Linked DNA regions of Homo sapiens. The protein of the gene in region 2 binds, or shares a complex with, the protein of the main gene of each other region. Each region holds a gene or a part of one and is shown on either strand. Other genes may lie near its edges.

Region 1 (2,642 bases), on a different chromosome or scaffold from region 2:
ATTCAACAGAACTTGCTGGGGCTGACTGGCTGCCTCCAGCTGCTTCCCATATCTTTGGACCTGCCACAGTGCTCATGCCAAGGCCACCCTTCTTCTAGGCTGCTAGAGCCCACGACTGAGCTTGATGGGAGCCATTTCTGCTGAATTGTCTGACGGAATCTTTGCCCTGGGGCTCCACACTGGACTGGCTGAGACCACCTCAGAATTGCACTGTAGTGAGAAGCGCTTCCTATTTCCTTTTTTTCCTCTTCCCTTACTCATTCCTGCACTGCAGCTGGAAACTGCCCACCTCTGGCCCTCTAGTTAAGCACAATAATAATGTATCCCCTTGACTCAGGTATTTTTTTACTTAGAAACAAATGCATCCTAACTGACACACCACCCACAAGCTGACAGGAAAGGGCGAGCGTGATGTGCACCAGATGTCAGACTGTAGGGTAGAGAGTTTGTGAAGATTAAAAAGGAAAATATTTTCCTCAGCCAACCACCAAAGGAAAAGATATAAAACAAGAGGCTGGTTTAAAAACAGGAGACTATTTAATCCATCTAAAAATACAAATCAGGAAATGGGGGGAACCATAGGAAAATCCTCCACCTCTAACAGAGCGAAGTTACTGGCTTTCTGCTTGCTCCAAGAATCCCAAGGCTTGATGTTTGGAAGGAATTATCTGTTCTTCAACTACTCCCAGATACTCAAGACATAAGTTACACACATCTGGAGAAGGGTTCTGCCCTGCTGAAGCTAGATGGGAGCTCAATGCATGGGAGAAAGGAGCATCAATCTAGAAAAAAATGATCAAAGAACAGCTGAGTGACAGTGTGGGGCCATCCCAGGCAAGTGGGCTCTTGGTGCTCTGGTGTAGCCAGAACCCATACAAGCTGGGCTGGCCTAGGAAGCCCACCAGCCAGCCTGTGTTCAGCTACAGCTTCTGTGTTCTTATTTACCATCATCAGCCACAGCCCTTGGGAGCAAAGCCCTAGACGCCTCCTTCAAGCCCCCTGCTGGTTGGTTTCATCATTATCTCGCCTCTTCCAAATCTGTAAGAAATGAAAACACAAACTGAAGTCTAGGAGGCATTCAGTCAACAGACACTTATCAAATACCTATTCTGTGCCAGGCCATGGACAACTTGTCACCCCATTTACAAATCTGCTATACCCCATTTGGAAATCTGCTACAGTGGCTACAGCCACTGAGGAGAAAAAAGTTATCTCTAGAAGGAGAGGTATCACTTTCTTCTTACAAAGCTATGGCTTTTGTCTCAATCTTCCTTCTTTTGCCAGGTACTAGGGCAGTTACATAAAGAGAAGACAGAGATGCTCTGTGCTCCATGGGTCAATCCAATGGAGAGGACAGACAGGCAAAGCGATATGGCCGGCACTAAAACAAACGTCAAGTAGAAAGCGCTGTGGGGTCACAAAGCTGCCTGGGGCTCTGGGGAGCACTTCGTGGTCGACTTCTAGCCAGCCTCCCTGATGAGTCTAGGTTCTTCCTCCTCGAAACCAGACCGCACACTTCTGCAAAACTAACCTGGCCATAATCGCAACTTTCTTTGCTCACTCATACATTTTCTACACTTCCTTATACTTCTTTTCTGAAAATCTCTGCTTGACTTTCAGGGCCATACATTCTGCCCCCAACTCACTACTAAGTACTTCCCAATAGGTACCTGGCCCTCCAACCAAGGTCCTAACTCTATCCCTCTTCCTGCCTTGGCCCACTCCTCTCACTGGCCCCATACGCCACCTATTTGTGGCTCACTAAGCCTGTGGCCAACCCACCTGAATGTAAGCCTCTGACAGTGTGATCATCTGGGGAAGGATGTCAGTCACCTGGAGGTCTTGTAATTCATACCATTTGCCTGTCCCCTGCAGAAAGTATGAAGAGCTGGGTTAGTCTGCTCTCTAAAACCAAAAGGGTGTAGAAGGAAAGGATCATAGCCAAGACTAGAAAAATTAGAAGAACAGCCACTAGACATCATCCAGCAACAGTCATAAAGAAGAGGGTACATGACTTCTTCTGGCCATGATTCAATTAATAGGACTTTTGGTGTGTCAATCATGGCAAACTCAATTCCTGTTGGGAATTTTTTTAAAGCACTGTTTTTTGTTTGTTGTTTTTTTGTTTTTTTTTTTTTTTGAGACAGGGTCTCACTCTGTCACCCAGGCTGGACTACAGTGGTGTAATCACAGCTCACTGCAGCCTTGACCCTCTGGATTCAAGCGATCCTCCCCTCAGCCTCCCAGGTAGCTGGAACTACAGGTGTGTGCCACTAAAACTGGCTAATTTTTTTTTTAATAGCAATGGGGTCCCACTGTGTTGCCCAGGCTAACTCCTGGTCTCAAAAGATCCTCCCGCCTCAGCCTCCTAAAGTGCTAGGATTATGGGTATGAGCCACTGCGCCTGGCCCCTTGAAGTACAATGGAGTCTGAAACACTTCTGTACATCTTTTTAAAAGGAATTTAGTGGACACTAAAGATGAGAAAAGAGGAAGCCATCTAATCATCACCTATGATGTCTCCTTCCTGCTCAGAAATGACAGACTAGACATTCTCACTTATGAGGTACACAGTGTCAACCACTGAGAGAACCTAAATATGGACATTCCTGGCTGGGCACAGGGGCTTACGCCTGTAATCCC
Region 2 (4,610 bases):
GGACGGGCTCTCGGCCCTGCCTTGGGAGGAGACAGGCAGGCAGAATAATGCCCGGGGTGCCTGCTTCCCGAGATTGGTGGTGCCTGCTTCCCGAGATTGGTGGTGCCTGCTTCCTGAGATTGGCGTGGGCGTGCAGAGGGCAGCACCGTAAGGGCTGTGGGTTGGTGTCTGGAGGAAGCACCTGAAAGATGACAGGGGTAAGAAGGAGAGCAGGGAGGGGGTGGCTGCGGGACGCCCCTCAGTGAGCGCAGAGGTGGAGCTGCTGCTGGGCCTCGGCTGCAGGAGCCTGCAGGGCAGTGGAGGGGAGTCCCAGGCAGAGAGGGTGGGCTGGCCTCTGCTGGGGACACACAGCTCCCCCTTCACCCTTCTCAGTGTCACCAGACACTGCGGAGCAGGATCAGATGGCAGAGATCACCACCGGGTCAGAGAGCCCTAACCTAAGTTGGCAAGTTGTGGCCCAAGGCGGCGAAGCTTGAGGGGTGGGGCAGGCAGCGTGGAGAGAGAAGCCACAGAGACCGTCTCAGCCCCCGAAGCCTTTGCACCTGGGTCTCAGAGCATCTCTGTTGCCTGCTCCCCGCAAGCCCTAAGCAGCAGGGCTGGGATTTGTTCTTTTGTATTCCGTGAACTCACTGAGGGACTCAGCACAGGTCAGGCAGCGCAGTCATCACCGCTGTCAGAGCGGAGCACTCTGTCTCCCCTACAGGAAGCCCTGTCCCCATCAGCCATCACTGCCTGTCCCATCCCTGGCCCTGGCACCCACGCATCCCTTCCCTGTCTTTGTGGATTGGCCTGTCCTGGACATTTCATAGAAATGGGATCTCACGGTGCGCAGCCTTCTGTGTCTGGCGTCTCTCACTGAGCGTGACGTCCTCAGGTGCGTCCTCAGGCGCATCCGCGCTGTGGCCTGCGCCAGCCTCGCTCCTCTTCCTGGCTGGTGGTCCCACCGCGTACACGTGCCGCCGCCTGTTTTGCTGCTGCTTTTGAGCTGAGAATTGTTTTTATGACTTTTAAATAGCTAGAAAGGGATCAAAACAAGACTGTCTCACGATGTGGAAATTACATGAAATTCACAGTTCAGTGCCTGTGAGTAGAGCTGACCGGCCGCAGTTCAGCCACACATGGACTCATTACCGAAGCTGCCTCCACCCAGGCAGCCCGAGCCAGCAGCTGTGACCGGCACCCTGTGGCCCACACGGCCAGAAGTGTTTGCCATCTGGCCCCCCGCAGACGTGGTCTGCTGCCTGTGGTGGAGATCACTCTGGAGGCGGCTGTCATCGGCCACTCCCGGGAGCCCTCTCCTACCCTCAGTCCTCCATCCCTGGAGCAGTTAGCCCCATACCTGGGCCATGCTGGGGCGGGCCCTGCGCCCAGGACGGATCTCATGCCTTCTCTTTTCTCTCCCCCGGTGATTTCTCCAAGCCAGTGGAATCCTGAAGGGCTTCGACCCACTCCTCAACCTTGTGCTGGACGGCACCATTGAGTACATGCGAGGTGAGTGGGGTGGCGGCCGAGGCAGGCAGCGGGACGAGGGGGATAGTGGGGTGAGGGGGGCAGCGGGACGAGGGGGGCAGTGGGACGAGGGGGGCAGCCGTGGGGCTCCCTGCTGGCTCTTCTTCTCTCAAACCCACAAAACCTCTGAGTTACCAACGTGAAGCCTCGTGGCGGCCGATGGACGGGCTTGAGCGCTCACTGGTCCTAGACGTCCTCACAAAGCAGGAAACCCCATTGTTGTGGGGCCTGGAGAGACGGGAGCTGCCAGCTCACCCACTGGTCTCTACACACTGACGGGGCGCCCGGCACAGTTAGAGGACAACCTTTTTAAATGTTTTATTATTTTAATTTTTGTTAAATTGGTGACGTGAGAGGCCAGGCACAATGGCTCACACCTATAATCCCAGCGCTTTGGGAGGCCAAGGCAGGAGGATCTCTTGAGGTCAGGAGTTTGAGACCAGCCTGACCAACATGGTGAAACCCCGTCTCCGCTAAAAATGCAAAAAAATTGCTGGGTGTGGTGGCGCATGCCTGTAATCCCAGCTGCTCGGGAGGCTGACGCAGGAGAATCGCTTGAACCTGGGAGGCGGAGGTTGCAGTGAGCCGAGATGGTGCAACTGCACTCCAGCCTGAGTAACAGAGTGAGACTCCGTCTCAAAAAAAAGAGATAAGCTGAGGTCTCACTGTGTTGCCCGGGCTGGTCTCGAACTCCTGGGCTCAAGCCATCCTCCTGCTTCAGCCTCCCACAGTGCTGGGGTTCCAGGCGTGAGCTGTGGCGCCCAGCGGAGAGCAGCCTTGCTGTGGGGTAGTGAGCGTGCCGTGGGGCTCCTCTCGGGCGCCTTTCCTCTTCTGCCCTTGTTAATTCCCGCTATGAACGCAGGGTCCCTGTCTCCTCCCCAGAGGACCCTCCCTCATTTCCCTGCCCCCGCTCGCTCCCCTCCCCAGTGAGGCCGCCAAGTCCTCAGACTCTCCCCCAGAAGCTCCTGCGGCAAGTCCCCAGCTGGCAAGTCCCCATCCCGGCCCGGGCACTGGGGGAATGTCAGGACTTAGGAGAGAGAGGGTCTTGCCCCTTGGATCCATTGATACTGAGACAAGATTTATTCTTGTAGCTGGCCATGGTGGCTCATGCCTGTAATCCCAGCACTTTGGGAGGCCAAGACAGGAGGATCACTCGAGCCCAGGAATTTGAGACCAGCCTGGGCAACATAGTGAGACCCTGTCTCTACAAAAAAAAAAAAAATGTAATTAGCCAGGCATGGCGGTACATGTGCCTGTGGCCCCAGCTACTCAGGAGGCTAAGGCAGGAGGATTGTTTGAGCCCAGGAGGTTGAGGCTGTGAGCTGTGATTGCACTGCTGCACTCCAACCTGAGCAACAGAGCAAGACCTGGTGTCTGAAAAAAAGTTTAAAAACCTGGGCCCCATGGTTCTCCCATGCCCCCACCACTGCAGGACCACAGTAGTGAGGAGTTTTAATCGCCTTCAGCCTCTTGAGAGCTTGTCTTGGGCTTGCTGGCACTTCCCTGGGGTGCCAGCCCACATGGTCCCCACCCCACATGAACAGCCTCTTTATTTTTTTATTTTTTGAGATGGAATCTCGCTCTGTCACCCAGGCTGGAGTGCAGTGGCGCGATCTCGGCTCACTGCAAGCTCCGCCTCCTGGGTTCACACCATTCTCCTGCCTCAGCCTCCCGAGTAGCTGGGACTCCAAGTGCCTGCCACCACGCCCGGCTAATTTTTTTGTATTTTTTAGTAGAGACGGGGTTTCACCAAGTTAGCCAGGATGGTCTCGATCTCCTGACCTCGTGATCCGCCTGCCTTGGCCTCCCAAAGTGCTGGGATTACAGGCGTGAGCCACCGCGCCCGGCCCCCAGCCTCTTTGTTATAGGGTGAATATTGGCCCCCTAGGGCTCCAGGGACCTTGCAGAGACCAGGAGGCCCAGGGTGCCTGTATTCTGGCCGGCCATCTGATAACCTGGTTCCCGGCCCTGGTGCCTGGGCCCCAGTGAGCTCTGAGACGCGGGGTAGCCGGCTATCACCTGGGCCTTCTTGTTCCCATGGTTTGTGGAGTGAGGGAGGGCTGTGGCTGCTGTCTGTGGAGCTGCCACTGGTCTCTAGGGGCCATGGGTCTCAGCCGTGGGAGCCGGGGACCTGCCCCACAGAGCGCATCCCGTCTGAGGTCCCTGCGTGCTCGTGGCGCCTGCAGGGTGCAGGTGGGGAGGTCGGAGCGAGGGTCTTGGGTGGGTGGGGGGTCTCGGAGGCTTCCTGGAGGTCCCTCAGTCCTCTCTATCTGCTCCTCCCCAGACCCTGACGACCAGTACAAGCTCACGGAGGACACCCGGCAGCTGGGCCTCGTGGTGTGCCGGGGCACGTCCGTGGTGCTAATCTGCCCGCAGGACGGCATGGAGGCCATCCCCAACCCCTTCATCCAGCAGCAGGACGCCTAGCCTGGCCGGGGGCGCGGGGGGTGCAGGGCAGGCCCGAGCAGCTCGGTTTCCCGCGGACTTGGCTGCTGCTCCCACCGCAGTACCGCCTCCTGGAACGGAAGCATTTTCCTTTTTGTATAGGTTGAATTTTTGTTTTCTTAATAAAATTGCAAACCTCAATGTGTCTGAGCCCCGAATCTTGCTTTTCCCTTGACCTTCTGAGGAAACCTGGATTCCTGGAGATTGGACTCAGTCCCTGGAGCTCATCAAATACCAGCCATGGTCCCTCCTGGGGGTGAGGGTTCAGGAGTGACCAAGGCGGGCACAGCCAAGGCCGAGACAGGCGAGTTTGGAACCTCAGTCTGATGAGGGGCTTGTGGAACCCCAGGCCCGCCCCCAAGACAGCAGGAGCTGGGGTGCATCAGGAGCCGGGATGCATCAGGAGGCTGGGGTATATCAGGAGGCCGGGGTGCATCAGGAGGCCGGGGTGCGTCAGGAGCCGGGGTGCATTAGGAGGCTGGGGTGCATTAGGAGGCTGGGTGTGTCAGGAGCTGGGTGTGTCAGGACCTGGGGTGAATCAGGAGCCGGGGTGCATCAGGAGGCTGGGGTGCATCAGGAGCCGGGGTGCATCAAGAGGCCAGACCCCACAGCCCATGCAGCTAACACCTGCCCCCGCTGCTGCCCCCGCTTGTGAG
Region 3 (7,044 bases), on a different chromosome or scaffold from region 2:
ATCCACACCCCCAGGACTTTTACAAAGATCAGATGAGCTGTATGTGTGCCATAGCTGCTCAGTGCCTCACATACTGTGAGTGTTCAACATATGATACCTATTGCTTTTTTCCAGATGAGAAGGTCAGAGAGGTAAAGCACCTTACACCGCGGTCAGGCATCCTGACCATCCATTGGTTTGCAGGGTTCATTTATTTGTGATTTTTCTGTAGCTTTGAGCGTCTGTCATCTTCCTGCGAGGTTGACAAGCTTGGTCAGTTCCCTGAATGCAGAGAAGTAGACCTCTGGTGACTCAGGTTTATTGCATTACTGTCAATAGATCAGTTTATCTATTGAGGGTAGATAAGTTTATCATCTCTCATATATCCAGTCCTCTGGCTTAAGGCATGCTCATCCACTTTAAGGTTCTTTAATTTGGTGAGGAGAATGCAAGACTTGGGTTAGTGAAGCTTAATGGGTTTGTTCAATTAGCTGTATGTATTTGGACAACTTGCTGGGTTTCCAGGGCCTTTGTCATCCCATCCGTAACGTGAAGGTGTCTAACCAGATAACCTTGGTAGCCATTCAGAGATGCAGTCAACATGACACAAAGTGCACAGACCTTGGTGTCCGACAGACCTGGAATCAGCTTGTAGCCTGCCCCCTAGGGTGACTTGGGGCGAGCTTAGCTTTGGACCTCCTTCATCCTCTGGTCCCTCCTCTAAATCAGGGATAAAAATAGCACCTTGGCCTCAGAAGGAACCATGCCTGACCAATGGTGGGGGACAGCCACCTGCCTCCCTGCTTGTATTTGTATGCTAGTGCTACCATAACAAAGTTTCACAGACTGGGCAGCTTAGACAACACAAATTTATTTTCTCATAGTTCTGAAGGCTGGAAGTCTGAGATCAAGGTGTTGGCAAGGCTGGTTTCTTCTGAGGAATGTGAAGGAAGGATCTGTTTCAGGCCTCTCTCCTTGCTTATATATGGCTCTCTTCCTGTGTCTTCACTTGGTCTTCCCTCTGTAGTGTTTCTGTCCAGATTCTTCTTATAAGGATACCATGCATGTAGGATTAGGGCCCACTCTAATGACTTCATCTTAACATAATTATGTTTATAAAGAATTTTTTTTTTTTTTTTTTTGAGATGGAGCCTTGCTCTGTCACCCAGGCTGCAGTCTTGCTCTGTCACCCAGGCTGGAGTGCAGTGGCGCGATCTTGGCTCACTGCAACCTCTGCCTTCCAGGTTCAAGCGATTCTCCTGCCTCAGCCTCCTGAGTAGCTGGGACTACAGGCATCTGCCACCATGCCCAGCTAATTTTTGTATTTTTATATTTTTAGTAGAGACAGGTTTCACCATATTGGCCAGGCTGGTCTCGAACTCCTGACCTTGTGATCTGCTCGCCTCGACCTCCCAAAGTGCTGGGATTACAGATGTGAGCCACCATGCCCAGCTTGCTTGCTTTTTTTTTTTTTTTTTTTTTTTTTTTTTTTTTTTTTTGAGAGTCTCACTCTGTCGCCCAGGCTGGAGTGCAGTGGCATGATCTCAGCTCACTGCAACCTCTGCCTCCTGGGTTCAAGCACTTCTCATGCCTCAGCCTCCTGAGTAGCTGGGACTATGCCCAGCTAGTTTTTCGTATTTTTAGTAGAGATAGGGTTTCCCCATGTTGCCCAGGCTGGTCTCAAACTCCTGAGTTTGCCTCAGCCTCCCAAGTGCTAGGATTACAGGCGTGAGCCACTGCACCTGGCCTTTTTTTTTTTTTTTTTTTTTTTTTTTTTTGAGACAGAATCTTGCTCTGTTGTCCAGGCTGGAGTACAGTGGCACAATCTCAGCTCACTGCAAACCTCCGTCTTCCCGGGTTTAAGCAACTCTCTTGCCTCAGCCTCCTGAGTAGCTGGGGTTATAGGCATGGGCCACCGTACCCCACTAATGTTAATATTTTTTGTATTTTTAATAGAGATGGAGGCTCATCATGTTGCCCAGGCTGGTCTCTAACTCCTGAGCTGAGGCAATCTGCCCACCTTGGCCTCCCAAAGTGCTAGGATTACAGGCATGAGCCACTGCACCCAGCCTTTTTTTTCTTTTCCTTTTTCTTTTCTTTTTTTTTTTTTTTTTTTTTTTTTGAGATTAAGCTTTGGTCTGTTGACCAGGCTGGGGTGCAGTGGTTTGATCATAGCTCATGGGCAGCCTTGGACTTCTGGGCTCAAGAGATCTTTTCACCTCAGTCTTCTAAGTATCCAGGACTACCAGTGTGCCCCACCATACCTGGCTAATTTTTAAATTTTTTTGTAGAGACGGAGTCTTGATATGTTTTTCAGGCCAGTTTCAAACTCCTGGCCACAAGTGATCCTGCTGCCTCAGTCTCTCAAACTCCTGGAATTACAGGCATGAGCCACCACATCTGGCCTGTAAAGATTTTTTGTCTCTAAATATGATCACATTCTGAGGTGCTGGGTATTAGGACTTCAACAATGAATTTTTTTGAGGGATACAATTTAGCCTGTAACAGGATGTAGAGGCCTCACTGGGTCTATCAAAACCTAGGCACATTGAATAAGAGCCAGCAGACTGTGGCGTAGCTAAAGCTGGTGGTGGGTGAACTCTGAGCACAGTTTAGTTTGTTCAGCACATCTCAGGCTGTGAGGCTTGCCTGTCCTTCCCAGATCCAGTCATTCTGCCTTTTGGGAATGAGAACATCCTCTTAGCACTTTTCCTTGCTTGTTCAATAACATTTTCTGTTATAAAAGTGGGGTGGGACAAAATGTGGTGGCTACTCCTATAATCCCAACACTTTGAGAGGCTGAGGCAGGAGGATCACTTGAGCCCAGGGGTTCAAGACCAACCTGGGCAACATGACAAGACTTTGTCTGTAAAAAAAATAAAATAGACGGATGTGGTGGCACATGCCTGTAGTCCCAGCCATTCAGGTGGAGGCTGAGTTGGGACGATTACTTGAGCCCAGGAAGTCAAGGCTGCAGTGAGCTATGGAGTGCCACTGCACTCCAGCCTGGGCGACGGAGTGAGACCTAGTCTCACACACACACAAAAGCACACCACAACGATTCGGAAAAGATAAATAGAGGATCTCACTCTGTTGCCCAGGCTAGTCTTGCACTCCTGGACTTAAGCGATCCTCCCACCTTGGCCTCCCAAAGTATTGGAATTACAGGCCTAAGCCACACCTGCCCTGTTTTGGGGTTTTAGTATTTACTTTTTATTCTATCCTCTTTCAGAAATAGTTAGACCCTGTCTCTTCTGAAAAGCAAAAAAGTTTAAAAATTATCTGGATGTGGGGCTGGGCACTGTGGCTCACGCCTGTAATCCCAGCACTTTGGGAGGCTGAGGCGGGCAGATCACGAGGTCAGGAGATTGAGACCAGCCTGGCTAACACGGTGAAACCCTGTCTCTACTAAAAAAAATACAAAAAATTAGCCAGGTGTGGTGGCGGGCGCCTGTAGTCCCAGCTACTCGGGAGGCTGAGGCAGGAGAATGGCGTGAACCCAGGAGGCAGAGCTTGCAATGAGCCAAGATCGCGCCACTGCACTCCAGCCTGGGCGACAGAGCAAGACTCCATCTCCAAAAATAAAAAATATATTATCTGGATGTGATGGCTTATGCCTGTAGTCCCAGCTACTCCATAGGCTGAGGCAAAAAGGATCACTTGAGCCCACCCAGCAGTTCAGGCTGCATTAAGCTCTGGTCGCACCACTGCACTCCAGCCTGGGTGACAGAGCAAGACCCTATCTCTAAAATTAAAAAAATTCTATGGCAGGATAAAAGTAGATGCATAGATCATGGTGCAGGTAAGCTGGGGTAGAATGTAAAATGAAGCCAAGCAGTCAGTATCCAGAAATGTAAACCTGAATCTCTCTGTACATTGAATAAAGGTATATTCCAGTGTAAGATTAAGCAGGGAAGATCATCAGTTCCAAAATGCATAGTGTTCTTAAGTTAAAATAGCAATTGTGTGGATTTCCCTGGCACTCAGATACAGGAGACACTATTAGATGATATCCTCGACAACATCCCCATACAAAATACCCTTTTATGGTCCCTCAAGTAGTTTTAAAGTATCCTGTTATCTTAGCACTGTTTTTGACATTTGAAAATGCAAAATATGGCCAGGCACATTGGCTCATGCCTGTAATCCCAGCACTTTGGGAGGCTGGGCCAGGGGGATCACTTGATCCCAAGAGTTTGGGACCACCCTGGGCAACACAGTGAGACCCTGTCTCATATATGTGTGTGTGTGTGTGTGTGTGTGTGTGTGTGTGTGTATGTGTGTATGTATGTATATATGTATGTATATATATGTGTGTGTGTGTGTATATATATATATATTTTTTTTTTTAAAGGAAGAAGAGGAAATATGTGTATGTGAAACTCAGGATGAGGTCCCTGAAATGGTGCTTATCGGGTCAGAGGGTGTGCATCTGAGGTTAAGCTGGGAAGGCAGGGAGCTTTTGTTCTCCTTCTCATTCCGACAGCTGCAAGCCAAGCACTGGTGGCCAGTGCTGCAGGATAGGGCATCAGCTGCAGGATATGGCATGTTGGTCAAAATGCTGTTGGCATAAGTGAGAAAAATAACAATACTCCAAAATATGTCCCCAGTTTTATAAAAATGGACCCAAATTATAAATGATACAAGCAAATACAGAGAGTAATGGTCAAACCCATTTCACTACATTCAAAATGACTTAATTCTTAGAAGTTTTGGTGGGAGAATGTGGTGTAGAGCTCTGCACAAGCAGACATTGTGCTTTTGGGGCTTCAACATGACCACCCAATCACTGATGGGACTGTTTGAAATCTGTTTTGTTGGCTTTGGCATATAATAGCCATCTTTGGAAAACTGGTCTCTGTATGGAATATGGTCTTGTGTCACTGTATAAAAATGAGAACCCAAAAGAAGCTCTCACATGATTGGGTCAGAAAATTGCCCATAACTATTGCTAGGAAAGTTTTTGAAATCTCTGAATTCAATGTAATTGAATTTCTTTAGACACCTAGCCCTCTAGGTTGAAGGAAAACCAGTTTTTTAAACTTATCGTATACTTTTTTTTTCCTGTACTGTTTGTGTGTGGATTGCATTCATCATGCTCCTCTACCCCATAATACTTTTGTATTTCCTAAGAACAAAGATAGGTAGATGGCCTTAGTTGGTATTCGTATTATAGCAGTGGCATCCAAGCACCTCTGCCTTTGTGTATGTGTGAAATTGTCCTAAAGAATGCATTTCTGGTGTATTGACAGGCCTGAGACACCCCAACACACCTTCACAGTCCTGGAGCTAGCTTTCTCCATCTTGGCCCCAGGTATCTAAGAAAGTCCCACCACTTTGTGCTACAAAGATTCTCTCTCTCCCCCTCAGGATGTCATTTCAGTTGGGTACCTGGCTTATACCATATGTGTTTCATTGTGGCTGTTGAGGAAAGTTGATTAAACTGGGTGTTCCTGCCTGGAGTTGATTAGGATCTGGTTCACTCAAAAGTTGCTGCCTTGGGCTTGTGATACAAACACAGGTCAGGCTTATTAGCAAGCTCTAGCAGGCATGTGTGCAGTGAGACTGTGGGGTTTTGTCCACAGCAAGCTGTTCTTAGCCAGTGCTACAGGGAAAGCGAGAGCAGTAGTGAGCCTGGTTGTTAGGGTTAAAATAGGAGTCAGAGGACACTGGACTCTCCTGCTTCAGCCAGGACATAGTTCATTTATGGAAATGCCTAGATTAAGTCTTGTCGGACTTATGCAACAGCTTCTGTCAGGAAAGGAGTGAGATGTGCCCCTGTGCTGGAGGGAGTGTGGCTTAGCAGTGGCACAGCTCCCAAAACACATTTTAGCTGTCAATCAGATTTAGCATGTACTGAGTCTCTATTATGTATTAGGCAATAGAGACAGCATTTAGACATACTTTGCCTTGTTCATTTTTTTTTTTTTTTTTTTGACAGGGTCTTACTCTGTTGCCCAGGCTGGAATGCAGTGTCATAATCATAGCTCACTGCAGCCTTGAACTCCTGGGCTCCAGCCATCCTCCCACCTCAGCCTCCCAAGTAGCTGGGACCACAGGCATGCACCACCACACCTGGCTAATTGTTAAAAATTTTTGTAGAGATAGGATCTTGTTACATTTCCCAGGCTGGTCTCAAACTCCTGACCTCAAGCAGTCCTCCCACCTTGGCCTCCCAAAGTGCTGGGATTACAGACATGAACCACTGTACCTGGCCTGATTTGCTTTTTAACAATTTCAGGAAATGTGCAGTGGTTAAGAGTGTGAGTTAGAAAGAACTGGGTTCAAACTCCAGCCAGGCCATGTAAGCGTGGTGTGACCTCAAGCAGGAGAATAGAGGGAAAGGGCATGGGTTTCTGGGGACAGATCTGCCTCTGAATGGCTATGTCACTTCATCTCTTTACCTTGTAGGATTTTGTGGGGTAACATGAGCTGCCGTGGGGAAATCACCTGGGCCAGCACTTGATGTCTAATAAGTGCTCAGTAACTGTTGGCTTTGTTGTCTTGTATTTTCAAAACTCAGCTTTGTAGTTGAGGGAACGGAGGCTCAGGGAAGCCTGGAGATATACCTAGGGTTACACTTCTGACAAATGGCAGAGCTGGATCTCACCTATAGGTCTTTAGGCCTATTTTGTGTCTTCTACAGAGTCATGAGTGTGGCACAGTCCCCAAAACACGTTTTTTGTTTGTTTGGTTTGTTTTTTGTTTTTTGAGACGGCGTCTTGCTCTGTTGCCCAGGCTGGAATACAGTGGCGTGATTTTGGCTCACTGCAACCTCTACCTCCCGGGTTCAAGTGATTCTCCTGCCTCAGCCTCCCGAGTAGGTGGGACTACAGGCACCTGCCACCACACCCGGCTAATTTTTGTATTTTTAGTAGAGCCAGGGTTTCACCGTGTTTGCCAGACTGGTCTCAGGTGATCCACCCACCTCGGCCTCCCAAAGTGCTGGGATTACAGGCATGAGCCACCGCGCCCAGCCCCAAAACACATTTTAATTGTCAGTCAGATTCAGGTGAGCCTGAGTTGTATCCAGTTTCTGTCTTGGGTAGTCTGACCATAAACCTG
Region 4 (7,044 bases), on a different chromosome or scaffold from region 2:
CAGTTAAGGGTTTCACAAAGGAGAGGTTCTGTTGATTTCCCCCTGAGTCTAAACTGGGTAATGAGGGACATAACAGAGAATGATGGGTGTGAGGACAGGGCCTGGAGTCGTGATGTGGTTGAAGAATTACTGGATTGAAGTTAATACAGTCAATGAGCTAGAAAGAAAGGCTGGAGAGAACAGAAAGGATCCTTGGAATTGAGGGGTTGTTTTGTTTTGTGATAGTGTCTCACTTTGTCACCCAGGCTGGGGTGCAGTGACTCTATCTCAGCTCACTGCAATTTCCACCTCCTAAAGGTGCTCTGTCCACATACAGTCATTGGGGGTTAGGGCTTCCCGATATGAATTTAGGGGTTACACAATTCCTAGATAGGACAATATATTGTCAAGATGTCCATCTCATGTAGTTCATTTCTAGGTTAAATGCAACTCCAGTAAAAATCCCAATAGGGATTATTTTGGAAGCTGGAAAATGATTCTGAAATTGGATAAAGTAGGGGCATTGTGGCAGTGTGGGATTGCATAAGGATAGACTAACAGAACAGAGAGACCAGACAGCGGGGCCCCGAGACAGAATCGTGTCCCAGTGGGAAGAGTCGCTCGTCAGTGCAGCGAGTGGGCGTGGGACAGTCAGTTATCTATTTGGGGAAAAAATGAAATTGGGTTTATACCTCACACCTTGCAGATAGATTAAGAACTTCAAAGTAAAAACTTCACATTTCGGAATCAAATTAAGGAAATTACATTTATAACTTTTTGGTAGAAAAGATTTTTTAAGTTGTCAGCATAGCCAAGGCAGGAGAATTGCTTGAGGCCAGGAATTTGAGACCAGCCTGGGGCAACACAGCAAGACCACCCCCCCTACCAACCCCATCTCTAAAAATGTTTTTTTAATTAGCTGGGCATGGTAGCATGTGTCTGAAGCCTCAGCTACGCCGGAGGCTAAGGCAGGAGGATTGCTTGAATCTAGGAGTTCGAGGTTATAGTCAGCTATGATAGACTATAGCTGACTATATCACAGATAGCTATGATAGCCTGGGTGATAGAACAAGATCCTGTCTCAAAAAAAAAAAAAAACCAAGAAACCCACAGGTTCCATGGGTGAGTTTCTTCAAGAAACCATGAAGAAAAAAGTGAACGTGTAACTACATAGAAATTGAGAACGTGGCCGGGCGCGATGGCTCACGCCTGTAATCCCAGCACTTTGGGAGGCCAAGGCGGGCGGATCACGAGGTCAGGAGATGAGACCATCCTGGTCAACACAGTGAAACCCTGTCTCTACTAAAAAAAATACAAAAAAATTAACCAGACGTGGTGGCGGGCACCTGTAGTCCCAGCTACTAGGGAGGCTGAGGCAGGAGAATGGTGTGAACCCAGGAGGCGGAGCTTGCAGTGAGCCGAGATCGCACCACTGCACTCCAGCCTGGGTGACAGAGCAAGACTCCGTCTCAAAAAAAAAGAAATTGAGAACGTAAGTTTTTTGTTTTTTGTTTTTTTACAAAACATACCATGAAGAATATAAAAAGGCAGACCAAAAAGAGAAGATATTTGCCCATATATACCACCAAGAATGGGTTGGTGTCAAGAGTATACAAACAGACAAAACAAATCAACACAACAGGAAAATAGGCGAAAGATGTAGATAAGACAGGCAGTTCACAGAAGAGAAAGCCTAACTCACCAGGAAAATACCCGGTGAATCCAGTTTCAGGAGGGATCACAGAAAGGTGAACCAAAACAGTGAGGCACCTGCCACCTGCCAACAATTCCGCAGAAAGGTCCAAGCCTGACAGTAGCGAGTAGGAGTAAAGGACATGGAGCGGCCAGAGTCCTCAGCCACGCTACTCACAGCCATGGGCAGGAGTCTAATCAGATGAGAGGGAATGTGTGCGTGCCCGGGGCCCACCCCACACCTCTCCCGAGTGTGCCCATGTGCACCAGGAGACATTGTCAGTGGGCCTGCAGCCGCAGTACTTGGGACAAAAAAAGTCCATCCTCAGTGGGCTAGAGAGCCAGATCAAGGAGCATCCAGCTCACGGGCTGTGATTCCATAGTGGAAACTGATGAGCTACAGCCGTGTGCATCAGGGTTACTCTCAGGGGCACAGATTTTTTTACAAAACAAATCACAGAAGAGTCATACAGTGTGACTCAGGTTATAGAATAATTAATACACAACAAAATAACTGTTCAGGGGCAGGTCCTTATGTGCTAAAGCCATGAAGACAAGCCGGTGAGTCATGACCATGGATGGGGAGGGGACACTCAAGTCTGGGCAGGGCATTAGTGATGCTGCCCCAGCCCCAGGGAGAGGGACATGGGTGTGTGTTTAGTTAATGTTTTAAAAACTATATCAGCCGCTGGGTGCGGTGGCTCACACCTGTAATATCAGCACTTTGGGAGGCCTAGGCAGGTGGATCACAAGATCAGGAGATTGAGACCATCCTGGCTAACATGGTGAAACCCCCTCTCTACTAAAAAAAAAAAAAAAAAAAAAAAAAATTAGCCGAGCATGGTGGTGCATGCCTGTAATCCCAGCTACTCAGGAGGCTGAGGCAGGAGAATCACTTGAACCCGAGAGGTGGAGGTTGCAGTGAGCCAAGATCGTGCCACTTCACTCCAGCCTGGCCAACAGTGAGACTCTGTCTCAAAAAAAAAAAAAAAAAAAACCATATCAGCCGGGTGTGGTGGTTCACACCTATAGTCCCAGCACTTTGGGAGGCTGAGGTGAGTGGATCACTTGAAGCTGGTTTTGGGACCAGCCTGGGCAACATGGTGAAACCCTGTCTCTACTAAAAATACAAAAATTAGCTGGTTGTGGAGGCATGCACCTGTAGTCCCAGCTACTTAGGAGGCTGAGGGAGGAGGATCACTTGAACCTGGGAGGTGGAGGTTGCAGTGAGCCTATATCGCCCCATTGCACTCCAGCATGGGTGATAGAGTGAGATGGTCTCAATAAATAAGTAGCATATGATGCATTAGATATACCTCGTTTTATGTTTACAATGTTCATTAAAAAATAAGTGTTCCTGGCCAGGCGCGGTGGCTCACGTCTGTAACCCCAACACTTTGGGAGGCCAAGGCAGGCAAATCACGAGGTCAGGAGATGGAGACCATCCAGGCTAGTACGGTGAAACCCCATCTCTACTGAAAAAAAATACAAAAAAATTAGCTGGGCGTGGTGGCGGGCGCCTGTAGTCCCAGCTACTCGGGAGGCTGAGGCAGGAGAATGCTGTGAACCCAGGAGGCGGAGCTTGCAGTGAGCTGAGATCGCGCCACTGCACTCCAGCCTGGGCGACAAAGTGAGACTCTGTCTCAAAAAGAAATAAAAATTAAAAGACAAACAAACAAACAAATGTTCCTGGATGTCCTGGAAGACTTTTTTTTTTTTTTTTTTTGGAGACAGGGTATTGCTCTGTTGCCCAGGCTTGAGTGCAGTGGCAAGATCACGGCTCACCATAGCCTCGGCCTCCAGGCTCAAGCAATCCACCCACCCCAGCCTCCCAAGTAGCTGAGACTACAGGCATACACCACCATGCCTGGTTGATCTTTGTGTTTTTTGTAGAGACTGTGCTTCACCTTATTGTCCAGGCTGGTCTCGAACTCCTGGGCTCAAGTGATCCTCCAGCCTCGGCCTCCCAAAGTGCTAGGATTATAGATGTGAGCAACCACCCGGCCCCTGGAAGAATTTTTTTTTTTTTTTTTTTTCGAGACGGGGTTTCACTCTTGCCCACTCTTTTGAGTGCAGTGGTGTGATCTTGGCAGCCTTGATCTCCCAAGCTCAAGCAGTACTCCCACCTCAGCCTCCCCAGTAGCTGGGACTATGGGCGTGTGTGACCACAATGTCTAATTTTTATGTTTTTTGTAGAGATGGGATTTGGGTATGTTGCCCAGGCTGGTCTCGATCTCCGGAACTCAAGCAGTCCACCCGCCTCAGAAGATTTTTTTAAAAAAATGAATGTAATATAAAATGAAAGAGGGGTGCAGAAGTGGACATAGTGACTCGAACCTTCACTGAGGAGTGAGGACTTTGCTGTCTGGGCTGCAGGGTTGAGGGAGAAGTTTTTTAAAGAGGGGAGATGGTAATCATTGTGTGTGGCTGGGCATCTGCGACAGGAGGGAAAGCAGAGGGTGCTGGTGCCCGTGTGGGGGTCGCTGGATTCAGTGCTGGCAGCATGAGTGAGTTCTCTTCCCATGTCACGGAACCTGCTTTCTTGGTGAAGCAGGAAGCGAGAAGCTGGGCTGTGGGAAGTCAAAAGCGTGGGCCACCTCACCACCCTGCGGGTTCTAGAAGTGCTGTCTAGAGTCCTGAAACCGGAGTTTGTCGGGGGAGGGGCAGGTGGCAGGAGGGAGCCTGGAGGAAGGAGTTTGAGGCTGAGGTAGTGTGTGAGGGGCTTTGGAGGGGGATTGGCACAGGCCTGGTCAGGAAGGCCCTGTAGGATGTTGGGTATTCATTCAAAGGGCATCCAAACCCATTGATGGGTTTGGAGCAGAAGAGTGACCCCAGTGAAAGAGGTGCAGAGTGGAGTTAGGCGGCAGATAGCAGCTGGGCCTGCATGGGCTGTGGGCGTGGCCTGTCTGGCTGCTGCCAGGGAGGACCCTTAGGTTCCTGGGTCTCAATGGCATCACCCCAGAAACTGCTGGGTTTGCCCACAGCCGCTCCCTCCCCCAGGTGGTGGAGATTGTGAAGAAGCTGGAGTCTCGCCAGCGGGGCTGGGAGGAGGATGAGGATCCCGAGCGGAAGGGGGCCATCGTGTTCAACGCCACGTCCGAGTTCTGCCGCACCTTGGGGGAGATCCCCACCTACGGGCTGGCTGGCAATCGCGAGGAGCAGGAGGAGCTCATGGTGCGTCTGGGGCGGCCCCGCCCTCTGCTTCCCTCGGCTGGGTGGGCTGGCTGGGGCCTGGGCCGACCCTGGTCTTTTGTGCCCCAGGACTTTGAACGGGATGAGGAGCGCTCAGCCAACGGTGGCTCCGAATCTGACGGGGAGGAGAACATCGGCTGGAGCACGGTGAACCTGGACGAGGAGAAGCAGCAGCAGGATGTGAGGGCCGCGCCGCTGGGGGGTGGGCGTTTGGGGGTGCTCAAGCTGGAGATGAGCACCGGGCTCGGTGTCCAGAGCCTCAGCCTCCTCATCCAGAGTGGGCTCTGCAGACCTCCCAGGGCGATCTGAGGAGTAAATGAGGAAATTAAATGTTGTGGAGGGCTGGTGCCTGGCAGGTGGTGACCAGTGGGTGGGGCTGAGAAGAGCCGGTATGGCCTGCTAACCACCCCCGCCACGTGTCCCGTAGTTCTCTGCTTCCTCCACCACCATCCTGGACGAGGAACCGATCGTGAATAGGGGGCTGGCAGCTGCCCTGCTCCTGTGTCAGAACAAAGGTAGGGAGCTCAGGGCAGCCATGACTTGGGTGGGCTTGGGTGCTGCTGCAGGTGCAGGCAGGGCCCCCTCCGGTCCCCTCTGCTGCCCCTTTCTCTCAGTCCCAATGCTGGAGCCAGCTGTCCGGCCCAGAGCCACTCCTTCCCCTCCACTGTGGCATCTGTCCGTCTGCTCTGCCTTTGAGGCTCCACACCTGCTTGGGGAAGGAGAGGGGAGTTGAAACTGTTCCAGCTGTGGCACAGAGAGCCCTGGTGTTAGGACCCCAGCTCTGCCATTTCCCTGGCCAGTGACCCTTGGCAAGGGGCTCATTTCTGCATCTTTGCTTTGCCTGTAGAACAGGCCTGATGGCTTTCCAGAGGCAAGGAAAGGGAGGTGCCCCCACAGGGCCTGCTCTGCCTTCTCAGGCGGCCCTGGAGCTGTGGCTCTCGAGGGGTTGGGAGTCTCACAACCCCTCCATCCCTAGGGCTGCTGGAGACCACAGTGCAGAAGGTGGCCCGGGTGAAGGCCCCCAACAAGTCGCTGCCCTCAGCCGTGTACTGCATCGAGGATAAGATGTGAGTGTGGTGGGGCCTGTGCAGGGCTGAGGGGCCTGTGCCAGCTTGGAGCTTCGGGACCACAGCAGGCGGCAGCTCCTCACACTAAGGCCTCCTCTGTCTCGGGCCAGGGCCATCGATGACAAGTACAGCCGGAGGGAGGAATACCGAGGCTTCACACAGGACTTCAAGGAGAAGGACGGCTACAAACCCGACGTTAAGATCGAATACGTGGATGAGACGGGCCGGAAACTCACACCCAAGGAGGTGAGCAGGGCCTTTTGCAGGCGGAGGCCCGGCCTGCCACAGGGAGGCCAAGCCCAGGGCCATGCAATGCCCCGGGCCATGCAATGCCCCAGGGTCCTGGCTCCACCAGCCTCTGGCTGGGGGCCTGGTGAATGCCACGGATGGGGAGGGGGCCCTCAGGGCTGAGGAAGGCTGTGCCTCAGTTTGTCTCTAGTGGGCACAGCAGTCTCTTTGCAAGCCTGGCAGGAGGGTCAGACAGGCACTCGGGACCTCTGCCCTCCTGTCCTCACCTGCGTGAGCCCTTCACTGGCTTTCCTGGCCCGCAGGGCCATTCCAGCGTCCAGGCCCTTCCAGCACTCTCGTAGGCCGCCCGACCGTCCTGCCCTACCACTCAGCTGCCCCCTTGCTCTCTGGGGTTTGTCTCCCTGCAGCCCCAGCCCCAGCCCCAGCGTCCAGGCCCAGCCCCTGCGTGGCAGGTCTCCAGGTTCCCCATGCTCTGCCCCCATGGCAGCGCATCCACTAGCCAAGCTGGTCTCCCGGCCTCTGCTGGGGCCCTGCAGGGTGCCAGCGTCTGTGCTCTTTTCCCATCCCCTTCCCACTGCACCCCAGGCCTGGCATTGGGGTCAATCAACACCCGCCCTGTTATTATACACCTTGTGGGCACAGGTGGCTCCGGCCCCACCCAGGGCCCTGCATCTCCTCTCATGCCCCGCGTCCCCAGGCTTTCCGGCAGCTGTCGCACCGCTTCCATGGCAAGGGCTCAGGCAAGATGAAGACAGAGCGGCGGATGAAGAAGCTGGACGAGGAGGCGGTGGGTGCCCTTGGGGATGTGGGGGGCCCTGTGCCTGCCGGGGCAGGGGTGGCTGGTGTGTGGGGCCTGCTGCAGCCC

Evidence for each region.
Region 1: LSM7 (region 2) and USP39 share a complex: the UniProt entries of both Homo sapiens proteins name them as parts of the U4/U6-U5 tri-snRNP complex.
Region 3: LSM7 (region 2) and SNRPD3 share a complex: the UniProt entries of both Homo sapiens proteins name them as parts of the U4/U6-U5 tri-snRNP complex.
Region 4: LSM7 (region 2) and SART1 share a complex: the UniProt entries of both Homo sapiens proteins name them as parts of the U4/U6-U5 tri-snRNP complex.

Annotation. Positions count from the first base shown.
Region 1 is NC_000002.12:85,647,157-85,649,798, reverse strand, and holds the end of USP39 (ubiquitin carboxyl-terminal hydrolase 39), read right to left. Parts: intron 1,870-2,642; coding exon 1,783-1,869; intron 1,039-1,782; coding exon 991-1,038; 3' UTR 516-990; downstream 1-515.
Region 2 is NC_000019.10:2,321,006-2,325,615, reverse strand, and holds the end of LSM7 (U6 snRNA-associated Sm-like protein LSm7), read left to right. Parts: intron 1-1,419; coding exon 1,420-1,491; intron 1,492-3,793; coding exon 3,794-3,936; 3' UTR 3,937-4,095; downstream 4,096-4,610. UniProt on the Homo sapiens protein: Plays a role in pre-mRNA splicing as component of the U4/U6-U5 tri-snRNP complex that is involved in spliceosome assembly, and as component of the precatalytic spliceosome (spliceosome B complex).
Region 3 is NC_000022.11:24,558,989-24,566,032, forward strand, and holds part of SNRPD3 (small nuclear ribonucleoprotein Sm D3), read left to right. Parts: intron 1-7,044. UniProt on the Homo sapiens protein: Plays a role in pre-mRNA splicing as a core component of the spliceosomal U1, U2, U4 and U5 small nuclear ribonucleoproteins (snRNPs), the building blocks of the spliceosome.
Region 4 is NC_000011.10:65,971,724-65,978,767, forward strand, and holds part of SART1 (U4/U6.U5 tri-snRNP-associated protein 1), read left to right. Parts: intron 1-4,655; coding exon of another isoform or gene 4,656-4,671; coding exon 4,672-4,845; intron 4,846-4,932; coding exon 4,933-5,043; intron 5,044-5,290; coding exon 5,291-5,378; intron 5,379-5,839; coding exon 5,840-5,930; intron 5,931-6,040; coding exon 6,041-6,176; intron 6,177-6,876; coding exon 6,877-6,966; intron 6,967-7,044. UniProt on the Homo sapiens protein: Plays a role in mRNA splicing as a component of the U4/U6-U5 tri-snRNP, one of the building blocks of the spliceosome. May also bind to DNA.